Linked DNA regions of Homo sapiens. The protein of the gene in region 3 purifies or fractionates together with the protein of the main gene of each other region. This does not show direct contact. Each region holds a gene or a part of one and is shown on either strand. Other genes may lie near its edges.

Region 1 (5,285 bases), on a different chromosome or scaffold from region 3:
TCTTCTTCTGCTTCTTCTTCTTCTCCCTCTTCTTTTTCTTCTTGCTCTTTCTCTTCCTCTTCCTCTTCATGTCCTTCTCCTTTCTTCTTCTTCTCTTGCATTCCATGTCAAGCTGAAGCTGGCTAGATTTCTCCTCCTCCTTCTCCCCCTCCTCCTCCTCTTTCTTGCCCAGGCAGGAATGCAGTGGCTTGATCTTGGCTCACTGCAACCTATGCTTCCTGAGCTCAAGCAATTCTCCTGCCTCAGCCTCCAGAGTAGCTGGGACCACAGGCGCATGACACTATGCCTGGCTAATTTTTGTATTTTTTGTAGAGACAGGGTTTCCCCATGTTGCCCAGGCTGGACTAGAACTCTTGGCTCAAGTCCTCCACCTACCTTGGCCTCCCTAAGAGCTGGGTTTAGAGGTGTGAGCCACTGAGCCCGGCCAGATTACTTCTTCTTTTATAACCAATAGCTCTAGAGGTCTGTAATTGCCTAATACATAGTGTTTACCTGAATTTGTTAAATTTTAATATAAAATAGCTATAATAAAATAGGATAATTTAACAAACTAAACATCTTAGTATGTGCAGCAGCTTTTATTTAGACACCCTACATTCTACAATAAACTAAGTCATCCCCAAGAAGTCTTTCTTCATTCTGTTCTTAGGAAGGGCAGGGCACATGTTTACTAAGCAAGGGGTAGGCACATGATGAGCTTTGGGCTGGTTAGAAAACTGGCAGACTCACTGTGCAAGTTGGTTCCTGTACCCACGGAGGAGCCCTTGGGAATGACGGGCATAAGGGCATGCTGGATGGCTATCTCCCACATCCTGGCCACATCTGCACCAACGCCACTGGTGAGAACACTGTTATTTGGTGATGGGCTGGAAGGATTGACCACATTTTCTCCCACATAATACACTACATTTGCCGTAGTGATTTCGAAACAATGAGGATTGGCCCCATTAGGAATTAAAGCTGAAGTTTTTACTGGTTCCAGAGACAAAATTTCAGATAAAGGAATTTCCTGTGAAAGAAAAAAAGTACTAAATGTTGTTTATCAAAAGTATGTAAACTTTCAAAGAAAATTCATGCCAAGAACATGTGAAAAATGACATCACAAATAGCCACCATTTAAATAAAATACTTTTAAACTATAAAACACAGAATACTGCTAAGCAAAATTAAAAAAAATACCTTTACTATGGGAAACCTTATTTCCTTTTTCTAGAAAATGTGACTTTTTATGCTATGTTCATGTGGCGAGAATCAGTATGGTTAGGAAAAATGATTTTGAATCTTCACCAAAATCCAAGACTTAGAAAATAAGCGATAATTTTTGTAACAGTGAGGTAGAATCACAACACTTTTGAAATGCATTTAGGCAGACATGGCTATTTTTAAATTTTAACCTATTCTTTAAGGCACTCAATACATGTTAATGTAATAACATAGCCAAGTGAATAGTTTAAGTGAGGACAACTAGAGATTGGTTTTAAAATGGTCTTTTTTTTTTTTTTTCCAAGAAAGAATCTTGCTCCGTCACCTACGCTGGAGTGCAGTGGCGTGATCTCGGCTCACTGCAACCTCCATCTCCCAGTTTCAAGCAATTCTCCTGCCTCAGCCTCCCAAGTAGCTGGAATTACAGGCACCTGCCACTACACCTGGCTAATTTTTGTATTTTTAGTAGAGACAGGGTTTCAACATGTTGGCCAGCCTGGTCTTGAACTCCTAACCTCATGCTGCCTGCCTCGGTGTCCCAAAGTCCTGGGATTACAAGGGTGAGCCACTGCGCCTGGCCTTTTATTTATTTATTTTTATTTTTGAGACAGAGACTTATTCTGTTGCTCAGGCTGGAGTGCATTGGTGCAATCCTGGCTCGCTGCAAACTCCGCCTCCTAGATTAAGGTGATTCTCCTGCCTCAGCATCCTGAGTAGCTGAGATTACAGGTGCATCCCATCACGACTGGCTAATTTGTGTATTTTTGTAAAGACAAGGTTTCACCATGTTGGCCAGGCTGGTCTAGAACTCCTGACCTCAAATGATCCACCTGCCTCGGCCTCCCAAAGTGCTGGGATTACAGGCATGAGCCACTGCGCCTGGCCAATAGTCATCATTTTTAAGGCAATTCATACTAAAAAAAAGAAATCACTACTGCATCTTCCAGGAAGTATGCAGGGGCTAAAAAATAATAACTTTTAAAACAAAGTTTTAATTTTAAAATTAGTGAGGTTTCCATTTTCTGTGACAGCTATGTAAAATGGCTGTGGAGAATCAAATCAACTATTCCAGAGTCTGCATTCATTTTGAAGGAGCAAGTATCTATTATTTTCTCTATGAAGTTTTTTTTGGAGTTGTGTTTTACTGGGTGATATAGTATGCCACATCTGTATTACTTAATGTAGAGGGACAGAATAAAAATTGCTGCCATTTTTTTCTCTAGAGGAAAGTGCTCTTTGTGAATATTGACAAGCATGGAGAAATCATACAATGTTTCTTCACTCCTAGCAGTGTGCTAGATGCAGTGGATATCAGGAGTTTACTTTGAGCTGATCTGCTGTGACCATTAATTTTCTAGTTAAATCACACTTCTCTGCTAACATATTCAATTAATCTTCACCTCCCTCCCTCTCCCATCATCCCATGGTACCAGAAACACTCCCCAGGGAAATTTAAAATTCACAGAAGAATCAAGAGGTCCCAACCTGAATCCCAAGAAATTTGTAGACTATAGAGAAGAAAAAAAAAATAGTTCCTGGAGGAAGCACAAAAATAGCCACGTTTGTTGGATGTATTTCCTATTTCTTATACTCTACATTCCCATGAAAAAGCAATAAGAGGTATGAAACTACAAAGAAAGAGCCCACTCTTACCTTGTAGTACCTGCTTCCTGTGTCATTCTGAAAGAGGGTAATACATTTGCTATCCAATCTCCAATAGTGCCGTTTCCGCTGAAACAGAAGTTAGATCCAAGATCTTTTTAAAAAACTTTAAAAATATCCCCAATTGAAAACATAAATAGATTTCCCCAATAGGGACATGCGATTTGAGGGTGGAAAGTGCATGGGCTTTGGGAAAGGCAGACTCATGCTCAATTTCAGGCTCTAGAGGTTGACTATTTAGCACATGTCTGATAAGTATCTGCATTTATGTTACAGGGTCGTGAGTAATAAAGAAGATGAAGTATTAGCGCCCAGTAAGAGCCTGGCATTTAGAAAGTGCATAGTAAACAGAAAACATCATTTTTAAGCTTATTTCACTGCTTGAAGGGCTAAAGGTGGATGTATAGTCTATAATAAAATAAGGTTTACTAGGAGATGCAATGTTTATTATGCATGCTCATTATTTTAGGACGTAAGAAATCCCATGCTGATGGAGCCAGGTATTCTTGCTTCCATTGGCAATGGGAAAATTCTGAATGTTAGAGTAGAAGTAAAGAATATTTTGTTGGACAATAAGTTTGACTCCATGACATCAACTTAAAGTCAGGGGAATGCATCAAACAACCAACTCTACCTTCTCTCCAGCTCACTACAGATCTAACCACTATGATTTGATGAACAGGTCCTTCTACACTGTAGGTATATCTTTCAGGATTTTAGGGTGTGTGTGTATTTTTATCTTATAAAAGACCCCAAAGCTCTATGATTCCGCTCTTCTCCTCCACAACCAATTTTAGGCCAGTCAAATATATTAAATATATTACACCATGTCTAAAAAGAACTAGGCGGTATTCAATTGAGTCCTATAATATCAGGTAGGTCTTCTCTCTCTAACACAGATGGTCGAAATTATAGATAGATCAATTAGGTTATAGGTGTCTGCTTATCTGTAGTGATCCTATAGGTAAGAGATGAGAAAAGCAATACAGTAACAGAAATCAGTCAATTGTCAACTTAACTTTGAAACGTGAATCAAGTTGTTCTCTCTTACGTACGTACACAACCTCATTCCTCAACTATTAAGAAAATCTCAGGGTACAGGATTCCAATGTTCCTGAATGGGTCAGTTCTTCAGGGAAAACTTAGTTAAGGACTTACGAAGTATAAGATAGTTATCACTGTTTTATTCTCTGCCTAGAATGCAGTGTTTCCTATAAAATTCTAAATTGCAGTGAAGCATTCTGAAAGCACATACTGTGGCTTCCACAAGTGCTATAAAATGGCAGGTAGACATCTCAGGTAATCAAGGTCAATGAATTTGTTTGCCTGAAATTGCTTTCCACACTTTTTCCTAACTTCGTTGCTTGCTCAACTATATCTGACACCCAGAGACTGTAATGCACCTTACCTAATCCCGTGTCATGCCTGTGCTGAGGTTTACTCTGAGTAATGCAGAAATCTCACAGTCCTCACGGGACATTAGCAACTCCTCTAATTAAAGCTAGCAAGGCAAGAGAACATTGTTCCCTGTGGATCTTACCAGCGTGTCCTTGCTGGTGTAGTGGACCATCCATCCTTCTTTCATGACTGTGCTGCTTTTCCTCTTCGTGTGTTTGACAGACTGCACTACCCTCATGAGTGGGATATTGTTGCTTGTTGATGGACTTGAGAAGTCAAAATATTGTAGGGAAAAAATGTTTTCAGGTACATTTTATGTATTTTCATGCATAAAACCTTATGTCAGCTAATCCAAGTGAAACTTTACAAAATTCACATCTCATGTTTAGTAAAACGTATTGTCAGGCACCATGGTTCTGAAAGTGGGTTACTCTGAAGAGTGATAGGCACGTTGTTTGTACACCTTAAAAAATCCTGGCCGGGTGCAGTGACTCACATCTGTAATCCCAGCACTTTGGGAGGCCGAGGCGGGTGGATCACGAGGTCAGGAGTTCAAGACCAGCCTGGCCAAGATGGTGAAACCCCGTCTCTACTAAAAGTACAAAAAAAATCAGCTGGGCATGTTGGCGGGCACCTGTAATCCCAGCTACTTGGGAAGCTGAGGCAGAGAATTGCTTGAACTCGGGAGGCAGAGGTTGCAATGAGCCAAGATTGTACCACTGCACTCCAGCCTGGGTGACAGAGCAAGACTCCATCTGAAAAAAAAAAAAATTCCCAAGGCTGGGTAATAAGCACCTCATATTTTGGGTTGAACTGTATGGTGTTCAGTTTTCAGGTAAACCTGAGGTAGAGTACTTCTTAGTCTACTGAGGCCACACTATTCAGACTCACACATGAAAGCTTATTTGCTTATTTATTTCCTATTATAGGTACATTATCAATCATTTAGAGATTACATTATTCAACATGAATTTTTAGTTTCTCTGCATAATGTCATAAAAATTGGAATCTGCTAGTCTCTG
Region 2 (5,285 bases), about 140 Mb from region 3:
TATCTCTCTCTGAACCCAGGGATCTAAAAAATACAACAAAAAAAAAATAACCAGCTAAATATAAAACATATGGGCTGGGCGCGGTGGCTTATGCCTATAATCCCAGCACTTTGGGAGGCAAGGCGGCCGGATCACTTGAGGTCAGGAGTTTGAGACCAGCCTAGCCAATATGGTGAAACCCCATCTCTACTAAAAATACAAAAACTAGCTGATCGTGGTGGCAGGCACCTGTAATCCCAGCTACTCAGGAGGCTGAGGCAGGAGAATCGCTTGAACCCGCGGGGCAGAGGTTGCAGTGAGCTGAGATCACACCATTGCACTCCAGCCTGGGCGACAAGAATGAAACTCTATCTCAAAAAAATAAAAAACATATGGAACAGTATTGGCAGAATAAGTAATCTAGACAAACCTTCTTGATGAAGACAATTTAAAAAGCTGGCTAAAAAAACCCAAAAACTTCCTAAAAGCATCAAATGGCCAAGGCAGTATGGAGTTACTGGGCTGAGATCTGGAAAGACTGGAGCCGAGAAAAGTAAGTCTGTACTTGGCTGGCTTTTGCCCTGAGGCATAGCACTGGCTGATCCAGAGAAGAAGCTGGGCTCTGCTAGCTTTTGGTGCCATCACTGCTCAGTGCTCACTAAGGACAAGGACCCTGGAGAATTTCCTGCTTCCTCCCAAATCAGAGATGACACCCTAAAGAGCTATAGTGATTTCAGAACTTTTTTTTTTTTTTCTTGAGACAGAGTCTCGCTCTGTTGCCCAGGCTGGAATGCAGTGGCACCATTTCAGTTCACTGCAACCTCCAGCTCCTGGGTTCAACCAATTCTTGTGCCTCAGCCTCCCAAGTAGCGAGGATTACACACACATGCCACAACGCTTGGCTAATTTTTTTGTGTTTTTAGTAGATACAGGGTTTTGCCATGTTGGCCAGGCTGGTCTCGAACTCCTGACCTCAGGTGTTCCGCCTGCCTCGGCCTCCTAAAGTATTGGGATTCAGGTATGAGCCACTGTGCCCAGCCTCAGAGCTTCTTATCTGCAGGCCCAGTACACCTCAAACTCTGGTCCTAGACCAAGGCAGGCAAACTAAGACATGCAGCTCACATCTGCCCTGTTACCTATTTTTATGGGCTGCAAGCTAATAATGGCTAAATAATTGGAGAAAAAAAATCAAAAGAAAAATATTTCATGACACATAAAAATTACATGAAATTCAAATTTCACTGTCCATAAAGTTTTATTAAAGCATAGCCATGCCCATTCATTTATATATTGTCTATGAGTGATTTAGACTATGATAGCACAGCTGAGTTGCTGCAACAGAGACTCTAAGGCCCACAAAGCCTAAAATATTTACGTCTGACTCTTTACAGAAGAAGTTTGCAGAGCTCTGTCCTTGACTATGAATATTCTCGAGCGCCTGTCAGAACTAAACAAAAATCCTCTCTGAAGGAAAACACCATCATCCTAGAACTGAAATGAAAATAAAGAGGCAAATTAGAAGCCTAGATGTCATAACCCAGAACCAACTGAAATAAAAGACACTAGGGATTCCAGAGGTGATTGAAATTATTAGGCCTTAGTCCATTTGGGCTGCTATTTAATATAATAATATACCATAGATAATATATCTACTTTTATTCTAGGTATTACAATATTAACTTAGGTTCCCTAATACTTGATATACTATATTATCATAGTAACAGCTGCCATTTATTGAGATCTTACTGCAAAACACACACTGTTTTGAGATAGGGTGTCGCTCTGTCACCCAGGCTGGAGTACAGTGGCACAATCACAGCTCACTGCAGCCTCGCCTTCCTGGGCTCAACTGATTCTCCCACCTCAGCCTCCTGAGTAGCTGGGACTATAGACACGTGCCACCAGACCCGCCAATTTTTCTATTTTTTGTAGAGATGGGGTTTCACCATGTTGCCCAGACTGGTCTTGAACTCCTGAGCTCAAGTGATCCATCTCAGCCTCCCAAAGTGCTGGGACTACAGGCATGAGCCACTACACCCAGCCTACATACATAATTTTATTTCCTACTTCACAACTAGTATTACCCTAGTTTAACAAAGTGACTGAAACAAGGCTAAGTAAGACTAAATTACTTTTCCAAGCTGGCAAATGATGGTGCTGGGATTTTGAACCCAGATCTGTGTTTTGCCAAAGCCTGAGCTCATTACCACCAGTGAGTGGGTAATCACATTGACATTTATCAGCAACACCTCAGAACAAATCACATTATAGGCTGAAGTATCAATAGGAGAGTACTGAACAAATGCTTTTTGCCTTCTACTACTCTCACACTCCTTGTTTGTACAGCTGTGGTTCTCACTTGGTCACACCTAATGCTGCTTCATAACCTCCAGGAGGCTTTTCCTAAGTCAGTCCACAAAGTAAGTCATCATCATTATTGTATGGGTTTAAAACAAGTTCCCATTTCCTCACTCCTGGCAATGAAATATTAAATGGTCTCTACAAAGTTTTTCAATCAGAAGAGAGGAGGGAGGAGAACACTAATCTATGAAGTAGTATAAGGGACTAAAATAACCTTGCTCTCCCATTAGACTGTAAAGGAGGAATTTTTGTCTGCTCTGCTGTATCCAAGGCTCCTAGCATTAGTGCCTGGCATAGAGCAAGAGCTCAAGAAATATCTGTTGAATGAATGAATGAGTTTTTTCCTGGAAGCACAGAAAAATAGTTAAAGCTTGGACTGTAATAATAGCAGAAACTGAAGATAACAATCATTAAGTTCCTGCTATGAACTTTTATCTTCATGAGACTCTAAAAATTTCTGCAGAGAAAAGGGGCCCAGACACAACACTATCTTCTTAACATTTCTGCCTAAGCACCAACATATGATATCAGGTTTCCTTGTTTTGAGATGGAGTCTCACTCTGAAGCCCAGGTTGGAGCACTGTGGCGTGATCTTGGCTCACTGCAACTCTGCCTCCTGGGTTCAAGCAATTCTCCTGCCTCAGCCTCCCCAGTCTCCAGCTCCTAACCTCAGGTGATCTGCCTGCCTCGGCCTCCCAAAGTGCTGGGATTACAGGTGTGAACCACTGTGCCCGGATGACATAGGGTTTCCAATAGCTACTTTTAATATAAATATTTCAGGTTACGCTGAAATAAATTCATTCTATATAATAGTCTGTGATATTTAGAGACATTCAACCTAAACCAAATTTGCTTTATTTTATTTTACTTATTGTTTTTCTGAAACAGAGCCTTTCTCTGTTGCCCAGGCTAGAGTGCAGTGGCGTGATCTCGGATCACTGCAACCTCTACCTCCTGGGTTCAAGTGATTCTCCTGCCTCAACCTCCCAAGTAGCTGGGATTACAGACACACGCCACCAGGCCTGGCTAATTTTTACATTTTTAGTAGAGGTGCGGTCTCACTATGTTGGCCAAGCTGGTCTCGAACTCCTGACCTCAAGTAATCTGCCCTCCTTGGCCTCGCAAAGTGCTGGGATTACAGGCGTGAGCCATTGAGCCCAGCCCAGATTTGCTTCCTTTCAGTCATACTATAAGATTTCAAAATGCAGCTAACTTCACAATATAAGACCTACCAATTCCATCTTCCTAGCGTTATTTACCATGAATCTCTCTCTTTTTTTTTTTTTTTTTTTTTTTTTTTTTGAGACGGAGTCTCGCTCTGTCGCCCAGGCTGGAGTGCAGTAGTGTGATCTCAGCTCACTGCAACCTCTGCCTCCCGGGTTCAAGCAATTCTCCTGCCTCAGCCTCCCGAGTAGCTGGGACTACAGGCATGCTCCACCATGCCTGGCTAAATTTTGTATTTTTAGTAGAGATGGGGTTTCACCATGTTGACCAGGCTGGTGTTGAACTCCTGACTTCATGATCCACCCACTTTGGCCTCCCAAAGTGCTGGGATTACAGGCGTGAGCCACTGCACCTGGCCGAATCTCTTCTTTTTTTTTTTTTTTGAGACAGAGTCTCACTCTGTCACCCAGGCTGGAGTGCAGTGGCGCGATCTTGGCCCACTGCAACCTCCACCTCCCGGGTTCAAGCAATTCTCCTCCCTCAGCCTCCTGAGTAGCTGGTATTACAGGTGTGCGCCACCACACCCAGCTAATTTTTTTTTTTTAATAGACAAGGGGTTTCACCATGTTGGTCAGGCTAGTCTCGAGCTCCTGACCTCGTGATCTGCCTGCCTCGGCCTCTCAAAGTGCTGGGATTACAGGCGTGAGCCACTGCGCCTGGCCCCAATCTCTTCTCAAGCAGGGCTTACACACACAGGACTTAATACTAATATAGAGCTTTAGAATTTATTGAGAGCTTCCCATAAATTATTTCACATCAAAACTCTGCTTTGAGGTAGATATTTCTGTTTACCCAATTTATTGATAAAACTGAGACTCAAATTAAGTAACTTCCTAAAGTCATTTCAGGTTCATACTCAGGGCAGACAGGGCATAAACCTACTTTGTCTAACCAGAAGTTCTTTTTGCTCATATATTTGTTCATCTATAAACTTGTGAGCTACAAGCTAGCAGGTTCTGTCTAAATCATGTAATACATTACCAAGGCCCGAAACACATTTTAATGTTTCTTGATAGTGATAATGATAACAACAAGGCCGTCTGCCGTTGCCACCAACTACACTTTTAAAAATAAATTTTTCCACTAATGCCGTCTTTTATTTTCTACTGATAAGTCAACAAGCAAAACCCCCTCACATTAGGTTCTGAGGAATGCCACAACAGAAAACAAGGACGATAAAAATAGTTGCAAAAAATAACCCGTTACTAGAAAGTTCTAATGCTCAGACTGTCCAAGACAATCAATGACTCATGAAAGAAAAAAGTAAGATTTACCTTTAACTTAAGAGATTCTCCAAGTAAGGTTCCCTTATAATCTGTTGTATAGGTCCAATCATATGGTTTAATAACCTCTTTGGAGTGTTCACCCTCCGTCCTCAAATACCAAAATGAGAAGGATCAGATTCAGTGATGCAGAATAGAGATTATCTGTATTTATATATCACATCAAATTATATTCTATAATAACATATCCTATTAAATATATACACTTGTTATAATTCACCAGTACAAGGTTTTTCTTACAGTTTTTCTGCATTTATTATTTAACTTGTCATGTACTGATGTAGTCTTTTCAATTAGTCTGTATACAGCCTGAGGACATGGTTTAAAGGTTTATACTTATTTGTATCATCTAAGGTACTTAGTACATATTAGGCACAAAGTAAATAATTGCTGATTTGACTATCAAAGAAAAACATGTTGTCTTAATTTCAATGCTTC
Region 3 (5,285 bases):
TTGGCTCACTGCAAGCTCCGCCTCCCGGGTTCACGCCATTCTCCTGCCTCAGCCTCCCAAGTAGCTGGGACTACAGGCATGTAAAAATTAGGCCCGGCCTAATTTTTGTATTTTCAGTAGAGACGGGGTTTCACCGTGTTAGCCAGGCTGGTCCTGAACTCCTGACCTCGTGATCCACCAGCCTCGGCCTCCCAAAGTGCTGGGATTACAGGCGTGAGCCACCACGCCCGGCCTTAGAAAACCACTCTTAATCTGTCTCTGTGCATCATATAGAATCTGTTTTTTTCTTTCTTCCCATTTTCTGAGCTTAGTAATAGAGACCCAATGAGACCCTTAGACTTTTTTTTTGAGAAGGAGTCTCACTCTGTCGCCCAGGCTGGAGTGCAGTGGCGCGATCTCGGCTCACTGAAAGCTCTGCCTTCCAGGTTCACACCATTCTCCTGCCTCAGCCTCCTGAGCAGCTGGGACTACAGGCACCCACTACCACGCCTGGCTAATTTCTTTTTGTATTTTTAGTAGAGATGGGGTTTCACTGTGTTAGCCAGGATGGTCTCGATCTCCTGACCTCGTGATCTGCCTGCCTTGGCCTCCCAAAGTGCTGGGATTACAGGCGTGAGCCACTGCACCTGGCCAAGACCCTTAGAGATTTATGAACTACCAAGGTACCTCAGTACAAACTGCTTTTACACTTAAGATTTTCCTTTTAAATCCACAACAAATCTAGAACATGTACAATCGTGAAATTTGCTACAGTGAAGATTAGGGTTTCCGCTACTTTGCAAGTACGCTAAAATACAAACTGTAAATGGGCAGCCATTATGCACTGCCTCATAGTGTTGATTATAGGGAGGCGTACTGGGTAGGCAACATTCCCCCAAGGATTTGGATATAAGGGAAGTAAGTGTGTCCCTTGAGAGTTAAACTATAAAATCAACATAGAGTAGGTGGGATTGTAGGCATCTGCATTTTATTCCTACCATTTAATTTTGTAGGTTTTGTGTATCTTATATGTTTTCTTTATTTTTATTTTTTGGAGACAGGGTTTCACTGTCACGCAGGCTGGAGTACAATGGCGTGATCTAGGTTCATTACAGCTTTGACCTCTTGGGCTCAAGTGATCCTCCCACGTCAGCCTCCCCCCACATCAGCCTCCTGAGTAGCTGGGACTACCTCCCGAGTAGCTGGGACTACAGGTCCGTGCCACCACACCCAGCTAATTTTATTTTTTGTAGAGATGAGGTCTCACTACGTTGCCCAGGCTGGTCTTGAACTCCTGGACTCAAGTCATCTGCTTGCCTTGGCCTCCCAAAGTGCTGGGATTACAGGCATGAGCTGCTATGCTTGGCCTGTATGTCTTTTATATGTTTTCTTTGTATTTTATTATATGTTTTAATATCTTTTTGGTGGTTTTCTCATTTATAACATTTGTTTGCTTAATAGAGTTTATTTTTTCTGTAGTGGTCTGGGAATTGTAATTACTATTTTTAGTCTACTATGTAAATTTACCACTGTTTAAACCTATATTGTCAAAGTTAAGAACTAAAGGAGATTGCCGGGTGCGGTGGCTCACGCCTGTAATCCCAGAACTTTGGGAGGCCAAGGTGAGCGGATCACCAGAGGTCAGGGGTTCGAGAGCAGCCTGCCCAACATGGCGAAACCCTGTCTCTACTAAAAACACAAAAATCAGCCGGCCAGGTGGCGGGCCCCTGTAATCTCAGCTACTCGGAAGGCTGAGGCAGGAGAATCACTTGAACTCGGGAGACAGAGGTTGCAGTGAGCGGAGATCGCACCACTGTACTCCAGCCTGGGTGACAGAGTGAGCCTCTGTCTCAATTAAAAAAAAAAAAAAACAACACTAAAGGAGAAGAAAACTTATACTCTAAGGGAGCCAGGGAAGATTAAAGGAGAAACCTTTAACATCCATTAAGTGTCCCAGTCCCTACTGCCCCCATGTTGATATTCCTGTTTATTATTGCTGCTGCTGTGGTTGTCTACTCCAGAGTTTGGCTCCTTGCACTTTCTTTCTTCATAGGAGATAAATAAGAAGTCATATAATCACATACCTTGACAGGGCTGTCATTGTAGAGCCATGAAAGAAAATTTGTGGAGTTCCAGTAAGTATCAGGACATTCCCACTCCCCATCAGACCAGATCAGATCAGGTTTATAGCTGGAAGACATGTGATCAGGACAGAGCTTATTATCTGAACATGTTCACAGTAAAATCTTATGGACCATTTTTTTTTTTAGAGATGGGGTTTCGCTATGTTGCCTAAGCTTGAGTCCAGCAGCTATCAACATGTATGATCACAATGCACTATAGTCTCGAATTCCTGGGCTCAAGCGATCCTCTTGCCTAAGCCTCCTGAGTAGTTGGGACTACAGGTGCACATCACTGCATTTGACTTGTGGACTGATTTTTGCAACAAATATTTTAAAATTAATTTTCCTTCATTTTGAAAGTATGTGGCATAAAAATTATCACAGTGCAGAGGATGTGGAAAACTGAAAACATTTGCTAATAAAACCAGTTTGCTAATAAAACCACCATTTAAAACAAACACAGCAGGCTGGGCACAGTGGCTCACACCTGTAATCCTAGCACTTTGGGAGGCCGAGATGGGCGGATCACGAGGTCAGGAGATCGAGACCATCCTGGGTAACACGGTGAAACCCCGTCTCTACTAAAAATACAAAAAAATTAGCCAGGTGTGGTGGTGGGCGCCTGTATTCCCAGCTACTCGGGAGGCTGAGGCAGGAGAATGGCGTGAACCTGGGAGGCGGAGCTTGCAGTGAGCCGAGATTGCGCCACTGCACTCCAGCCTGGGCGACGGAGTGAAACTCCGTCTCAAAAAAAAAAAAAAAAAACACACAGCATTTTGGTATATTTCCTCCTGATCTTTTCCTTTCTTCCTTTTTTTTTTTGAGACTGTTTTGCTTTGTCTCCCAGGCTGGAGTGCAGTGCTGTGATCTCGGCTCACTGCAACCTTCACCTGCTGGATTCAAGTGATTCTTGCACTTCAGCCACCCAAGTAGCTGGGATTACAGGTGTGCACCACCATGCCTGACTAATTTTCATATTTTCAGTACAGACAGTGTTTTGCCATCTTGGCCAGGCTGGTCTTGAACTCTTGGCAGCAAGTGATCCACCTGCCTCGGCTTCGCAAAGTGCTGGGATTTCAGGCATGAGCCACTGTGCCTGCCCTAATCTTTTTTCTTTATGCCTTTTAGGAAATGGAGGTGTAATCAGCATACAAACAATTTGGTTTCCTTTCAGCAACTAATTCCAATTAAGAATGGGTGCAGCTGGCCGGGCACAGTGGCTCACACCTGTAATCCCAGCACTTTGGGAGGCCGAGGCGGGCGGATCACGAGGTCGGGAGATCGAGACCATCCTAGCTAACACCGTGAAACCCCATCTCTACTAAAAATACAAAAAATTAGCCGGGCATGGTGGCGGGCGCCTGTAGTCCCAGCTACTTGGGAGGCTGAGGCAGGAGAATGGCGTGAACCCGGGAGGCGGAGCTTGCAGTGAGCCGAGATTGCGCCACTGTACTCCAGCCTGGGCGACGGAGCGAGACTCCGTCTCAAAAAAAAAAAAAAAAAAAAAAAAGAATGGGTGCAGCACACCAGCATGGCACATGTATACATATGTAATTAACCTGCACATTGTACACATGTATCCTAAAACTTAAAGTATAATAAAAAAAAAAAGAATGGTGTTTCAAGGAAGCAAAGGAAACAAAATGGTGCTTCAGGACTATAAGACTAAGATTTGCTTTGAAGATGTTTTAAGAGTTGGAACTATTCATAAAATGCATTTTTGTGGATAATTACCAAAGTCTGTACTGTAAAGGACTTATGGAATCCACTGGAGCCCCATTTGTACTCTAGCATATTATTACTCTGAGCCCTATAAGGCATGTATGTTGTGTGTATATACATAAATACATATGTATATACCTATATGGTAAGCATTATTATTCTCATTTGAGCAGCAAGACTTTGATGCTCAGTAGGGCAATTTGTTTCAGGTGACAAGGCTTGTAAGTAACAGGAGGTGGAACTCAAATACAAATCTGCCCATTTGTCCACTGTACTCCATAATTAGGCAGGTAAACTCTAGGAAGATCACTAAGTGGCAAGATATAACAGATGGTCTGTGATTTACTGTGTATAAGAAATTGTACTAGGCAATTTAAACTCATTACCTCATTAGTTCTCATGATTCTAGGATATACTATTATCCCATTTCACAGATAGAGAAACCAAGATCTCGAAAGATAAGTAGTTTGTTCAAGGCAACATAGCCAAGTACGATAAAAGAGTGGGGATCTAAGATTCAGTAATTCTAAATCTGTCCATGTCTCTGATGGTCTCTTACAATTGTTACTATTTTCTTAAGAGAAGTCATCTGGATAGAATCTGAATACAAGGTAATTTTTCTTTTCTTGAGACAAAGTTTTCCTCTGTAGCCCAGGCTGAAGTACAGTAGCAGGATCTCGGCTCACTGCAACTGCCTCCCTGGTTCAAGAGATTCTCCTGCCTCAGCCTCCCGAGTAGCTGGGACTACAGGTATGCACCAGCATGCCTGGCCAATTTTTGTATTTTTTAGTAGAGACGAGATTTCACCGTGTTGGCCAGGCTGGTCTCGAACTCCTGACTTCAAGTGATCTGCCTGCCTCGGCCTCCCAAAATGCTGGGATTACAGGCGTAAGCCACTGCGCCTGGCTAAAGGTGATTTTCCTTTGCTCTAAAGTGAGGGTCCAGGCAGCTGCCTCTGAAGCTTTAAGGGTCTACCGTCCTCTATGAGTCCCCAGGCTCGAGAAAGGCAAATGGGGATAAAACATTGTGAAGAACTAGTGACAAATCCCTAAGTGAAAGTGATCATTTAAAGAATAATGGTAATAACAACAGCCTTACTTTGTACCAGGCACCGTGACAGATACATTTCACATACTATTCTGAGCCCTACAAAGAAGGCATTATTATCCCCACTTTACAGAGTGAGAATCAAGCTCAGGAGAGTGTTCTGTTTAAGGCATGTAAGTAACAGGAGCCAGAATTCAAACACAAATCTGCCCGATGCCAAACCACCCCCTCTCCAGGGTCCTGACATAGGGAAAACGGCATGTAAGAAGGGAACTAAAATTTTGACTTTCTGCCATCCTGGGTTTTGTGTGATTGTTTCAATGTAGAAGGCAATATGGCCACATGACAGAAGTTCTGAAAGGCAGGAGGAAAGAACATATTTTGTCTTAATACAACCACCACTTTTTATTATTT
Region 4 (5,285 bases), on a different chromosome or scaffold from region 3:
AGTAATTTTCAATTTTAGTATGGGTTAAGAAAAAAATGTAAACTGCTTGCTATTTGACTTTATCACATTTAAGTTTCAATCTCATTAGGAGTATACATTTATCATAAAAATACTTCCTATTATGCTAATTAAGTACTTTTGTTCAAAGTATTACATCATGTCTATGGTTCCATAGCACACTTATACGTTACCAAATAAAATTTTATTTAAAATTTCCATATAAAATTGGATAAAGAATCAGAAGAGAAAACCCAAATCAGGGGCAATTGTTAGCAAATACTTAATCATAATCTACAGCATTAAGAGGTAGTAAAGATTTTTTAGCCAAATTTTGTCAGACCCACTTGGTCCCTGATTCCGGCAGATGGAGTGGGAGTAGCTTATACGATGGTCACACTGGTGCATCTACCACTATCACACACACCTGTTAGTGGACAGAAGTCAGTCCAGAGTGGCTTAACTCTAAGAGTACAAGAAGCAAATTGGAGAACAGGAGTGAAGAAGAGAGAAAGTAAACACACTTTGAAACTGTTCAGACCCTTGCTGGATAGGGGTATGGACCTCATGCCACCCAAGCCCACTCTGCAGGACACTGGCTTTTGTGCAGCTCTTCATCACAGAGTCTGTTGAGCTACAACCCAGAAAAAAAACATGAAGGGATCTCTGGTCTGTCTGATTCATCCTCTTAAGCATAGATTTGTTCAGTATTTGTCTTCCTTCCAGGATAAAATTCTTTTTTTTTTTTTTTTTTAAGAGACGGTGTCTCACTATGTTGCCCAGGCTGGTCTGGAACTCTTGGCTTCAAGCAATCCTCCCCCATCGGCCTCCCAAAGTGTTGGAATTATAGGCATAGCCACTGCTCCCCACCCTGGGTAAGATTCTTAACCTGTGCTCCACAGGCTGATTCTAGGTAAACATTTGAGGCTAATAAAAATGTACGCCATAGGCCGGCGCGGTGGCTCATGCCTGTAATCCCAGCACTTTGGGAGGCCGAGGCGGGCAGATTACGAGGTCAGCAGATCGAGACCATCCTGGCTAACACGGTGAAACCCCGCCTCTACTAAAAATCCAAAAAATTAGCCGGACGTGGTGGCGGGCGCCTGTAGTCCCAGCTACTCGGGATGCTGAGGCAGGAGAATGGCGTGAACCCGGGAGGCGGAGCTTGCAGTGAGCCGAGATCGCGCCACTGCACTCCAGCCTGGGCGACAGAGCGAGCGAGACTCCGTCACAACAACAACAACAACAAAAAAATGTACGCCATCATCGGATTCTCAAGGAGGTCTAGGGTCTGGGGATTCCCTAAAAAGTTACGAAGCATTGGCCGGGCGCGGTGGCTCACGCCTGTAATCCCAGCACTTTGGGAGGCCCGGGGCGGGCGGATCACGAGGTCAGGAGATCGAGACCATCCTGGCTAACATGGTGAAACCCCGCCTCTACTGAAAATACAAAAAATTAGCCGGGCATGGTGGCGGGCGCCTGTAGTCCCAGCTACTCAGGAGGCTGAGGCAGGAGAATGGCGTGAACCCGGGAGGCGGAGCTTGCAGTAAGCTGAGATTGTGCCACTGCACCCCAGCCTGGGCGACAGAGCAAGACTCCGTCTCAAAAAAAAAAAAAAATTTACGAAGCATCAACGAACCAGGAAAAGGTAAAAAGAGAATTGGAAGAGATAGACAGAATTTTTACTTTGTCTTTTTGTTTCCTTCTGGTTGCCAGCCTCAAGAGATGTTTGCTTGATTCAGGGCTGAAGGAGAGTAAAGAAAAGCTGTGAGGCTGTAGTAATCTAGTAGTGGTAAGCTCAGCATGAGAAGCAGTACTAGGAACCCTCGGCTCTTAAAAGGAAAAGATTTTATTTTAATTAGGGGGAAAAGGGAACGAGTTTATCTCTGAGGCCAGCACAAGAAAACAGGTGAGTGGGTCTAGAAGTGAAGAGGGCTCTCAGGGGACCCCCAGAGGAAGCTCCAGCACAAACTCCCTGATCCCTGTGACTTCACAAGCTGCACCTCCCATCTTCTTGAAACCCCTCCCCTGCCATAAAAGGGCAAAGCCTTGTTGAAAGATTGTAGAAGAACCCTGTCTTCCCACTCACCCAAAGAAAGCAAAGACGAGTTCCTGGAAATCTAACTCTGAAAACTCACCCCTCTCTCCAAGAAACATCTGATGTGGTGATTTGGTTCAATGGCAGTGTTAGTAGAGAACTATACGTGAATTATAAAGTGGGTTACTTTTACAGACTCTTACAGGTTCGCTGGGGACCATATCATTAAGGATAACTATTTATTTATGAAATGAATTTCAAGTTTTAAATAACCAAATGACAAGCGAACTGTTTGGAATAAAATTGTTGGAAATGCAACTCACTTATAAGTTAAGGTATACCCAATTTTTGAACAAATCACATAGAGCATGAGAAAAACATCATCTAGTAGCCAGTTCTCTGATAGGTAATTCTTTCTGTGTTTATTGTTTTTTAAATAGAAGTATACAAATGATCATATGGAATGAAACCTAAAAAGAGGCTGAGATTAGGCACCTTTTTAAAAGAATGTCATTTTAGAAACAATGAAATTAATCAGAGCTGTACTTTGTAGGAGGCAAAGAGAGTCGTGGGAGTATTTCAGCTAGTGACTTGAAAATACATTTTTCTGGCAAATTTTTCTTTTTATAAATGTCTGCATTTGTCAAAAACCTGTTGGATGATGAAACGAAATTGTTGTTGAGAAGACAAAGGTAAAGTTGACGATATTACAAATATCAATATAATTTACTTTTCCTAATGACTAAATATTTTATCTGAGACCTTATTATATAAACTGTGAAAGTATTTCATTGTAATTCTACTGGTAAGGGAGGGTTTAGGGGTTCTCCAATTCAAATATACTCCCAATTGCAACTCAAAATCATCATGTTTAAAAAGTATTTAACAGGGGAAATAGTATAGTATTATTTGAGGATAATATAAATGTAAGCTCATAATATAAAATTCTGTTTTCGCAATTTGATTCCCTGTCCTCCACCCCCCACCCCCAGTCCAAGAAACTCAAGTTCGGAGCATGGCATTCTATGATGTATCCATCCAATTCTGCCATTCTAAGTATTCAGTTTTTCAACTTGTAGAAGAAACACCTCTAGTATTGTGTGAAATGGGTCTGGGAAGATGATGCATTTTTCCTTCAGGACCAGTGAAAATATTTATGACATCTATGAAATGATCTCATTTTGTTGCACAAAACCTTTCCCTGAAATCACTGTTTATCTGGGACCCAGCAGCCCAACTGCATAGCGCATGTTGTTCAATGGGCAGCCTGAGGAATGGATTCCAGGGCCCATATTGAGGCCAAGTAGAGGACAACAGGACTCCTGAAGCACTTGGATCCAGTTGCAGAGGTGAATATCTTATTTTGAAAGAATTAAAGCTGGCTGATGACCAGATAAAGAGATATCCACTAAAGATCAGGAATAATTTTTTAACATCTTATTTTCTGAAGAAATGCCAGCCCACATTAGACACATTATAAATGTGTAGATTGCAGGCAAGCAATGATCTAATTAGCAGCATTACAAACCCCAAACTTATTTCCTCCCCTTTGCCGGAAGCAAAGCTAATCAGTTAGGAGAAATAAACATCATTCCAAATGGCTCAAAACAATCAAAGTTATATTTCTGTATAACCACTATGCCATCATTTAAGGAGTACATTTCCAACCTGCCACACCTCTAATAGGTTGGCTTAACAGCACATTTGTAAGCATAAAACTAGAAAAATAATAGGGTGAAATAAATTAATTGAATATGAAACTTTAAGGAGAAGTTAACATAAAGTACAAAAAAATTATTCGTTTAAAATTCTAAGTACTCTTAAAAGAATTTATACAGCAGAAAAAATGCAAAACAATGCTGGTAAGTAAAAAAATTCATTTATTCATTTAAAGCCTTATGTCTTTCTAAAATTCCCAGATTTATTGTAGCTTTTATTAGCACTTTTCACTTTCTTGCAAAAGACATGGCAAAGTGTTTAATCCTACATATATCTTAGTGCCTTCTCAGTCACTAAAACCCAGGACATCAGCTGGTGTGCTGCTTTCGTGGGTGCACTACTTTGTAAATATTCTGTGCTTATTTCTTGCCTTGTGTCTATTCTGTCCTCCCTGGTAGCTTGTGAGGTGCTGGAGAGCAGGTACCAGATATTCAACTCTTTAAACTTTCCCAATGTCAAGTGCAAAGAATGATGTACTGGGGTCACTCAGTAAATACAATTGATTGGCTAGTGTTTTAGTCCTTCATCATGAGCCTCAGCAATTTTACAACAACTACCAGCTTAAATCTTTACCTAATCCAAAACACAGATATTATAGTGAATGTAGGAAATCACCCACCAACATTGATTTAGCATGTTTACAGTGCCAGATCTACATGCAAGCTAACTGTTCATATCAGCATCCAACCTCACTTTTAGAATCTAGGTTTTCATATTCAATGTCCAACATATTCTCAATCTTCTAAAATGCATCCATTTAAGAATTAGTTAAGAGACAACATGGGGAGAGAATAACAATGCTTAATTTTATACACTTTTCTCCCCTAGGAGGTTCAGATGTTGATTTTTTCTCTCTCCTTTTTGTTTTTCTCTCATCATTTTGACATGCTTATTTTCCAGGGCTTGTTTGAAAAATTAAAATATTCACATAATTTTGTTAAGGAGACTAGATGCATTGAGGAATTAGATTATGGGAGATATATGTTCAGTTTGTGGTTGGCTTAGCTGTTACCATCCTCTCTACACTCTTCTATTGACCTCATATCTACCAGACTAAGAAATGCTTTGTTTCTATTATCAAATTTGCATATGTACTCAAATTTGTGTGTGTGTGTTCAACACACACCATTTGTTCTAAAATTACATTTTGCTCTGTATCACCTAACCAAACTACCTATGGTAGACCTCCATCGTCCCATTGCTGCCTCTCATGAGGCACAGCTGAGTTCCATCAGGTTTCATTATTTATTCATTAAAATAAAACAGCAGAGGCTGGGCGCAGTGGCTCATGCCTGTAATCCCAGCACTTTGAAAGGAGGCTGAGGCGGCGGATCACGAGGTCCGGAGTTCAAGACCAGCCTGGCCAACGTAGTGAAACCCCGTCTCTACTGAAAATACAAAAATTAGGGAGGAATTGTGGCACGCGCCTGTAGTCCTAGCTACTTGGGAGGCTGTGGCAGGAGAATTGCTTGAACCTGGGAGGCAGAGGTTGTAGTGAGCCGAGATCGTGCCACCACACTCCAGCCTGGGC

Evidence for each region.
Region 1: the proteins of FUCA1 (region 3) and PRKD1 purify together in Homo sapiens (affinity purification with mass spectrometry; 2 studies listed by BioGRID and IntAct, with this or other methods). This does not show direct contact.
Region 2: the proteins of FUCA1 (region 3) and TIPRL purify together in Homo sapiens (affinity purification with mass spectrometry; 2 studies listed by BioGRID and IntAct, with this or other methods). This does not show direct contact.
Region 4: the proteins of FUCA1 (region 3) and RBMS1 fractionate together in Homo sapiens (co-fractionation; one large-scale study listed by BioGRID). This does not show direct contact.

Annotation. Positions count from the first base shown.
Region 1 is NC_000014.9:29,630,013-29,635,297, forward strand, and holds part of PRKD1 (serine/threonine-protein kinase D1), read right to left. Parts: intron 4,530-5,285; coding exon 4,406-4,529; intron 2,935-4,405; coding exon 2,857-2,934; intron 1,010-2,856; coding exon 730-1,009; intron 1-729.
Region 2 is NC_000001.11:168,184,432-168,189,716, reverse strand, and holds part of TIPRL (TIP41-like protein), read right to left. Parts: intron 4,939-5,285; coding exon 4,839-4,938; intron 1-4,838. UniProt on the Homo sapiens protein: May be a allosteric regulator of serine/threonine-protein phosphatase 2A (PP2A). Isoform 1 inhibits catalytic activity of the PP2A(D) core complex in vitro. The PP2A(C):TIPRL complex does not show phosphatase activity.
Region 3 is NC_000001.11:23,857,735-23,863,019, forward strand, and holds part of FUCA1 (tissue alpha-L-fucosidase precursor), read right to left. Parts: intron 2,170-5,285; coding exon 2,064-2,169; intron 1-2,063. UniProt on the Homo sapiens protein: Alpha-L-fucosidase is responsible for hydrolyzing the alpha-1,6-linked fucose joined to the reducing-end N-acetylglucosamine of the carbohydrate moieties of glycoproteins.
Region 4 is NC_000002.12:160,483,270-160,488,554, forward strand, and holds part of RBMS1 (RNA-binding motif, single-stranded-interacting protein 1), read right to left. Parts: intron 1-5,285.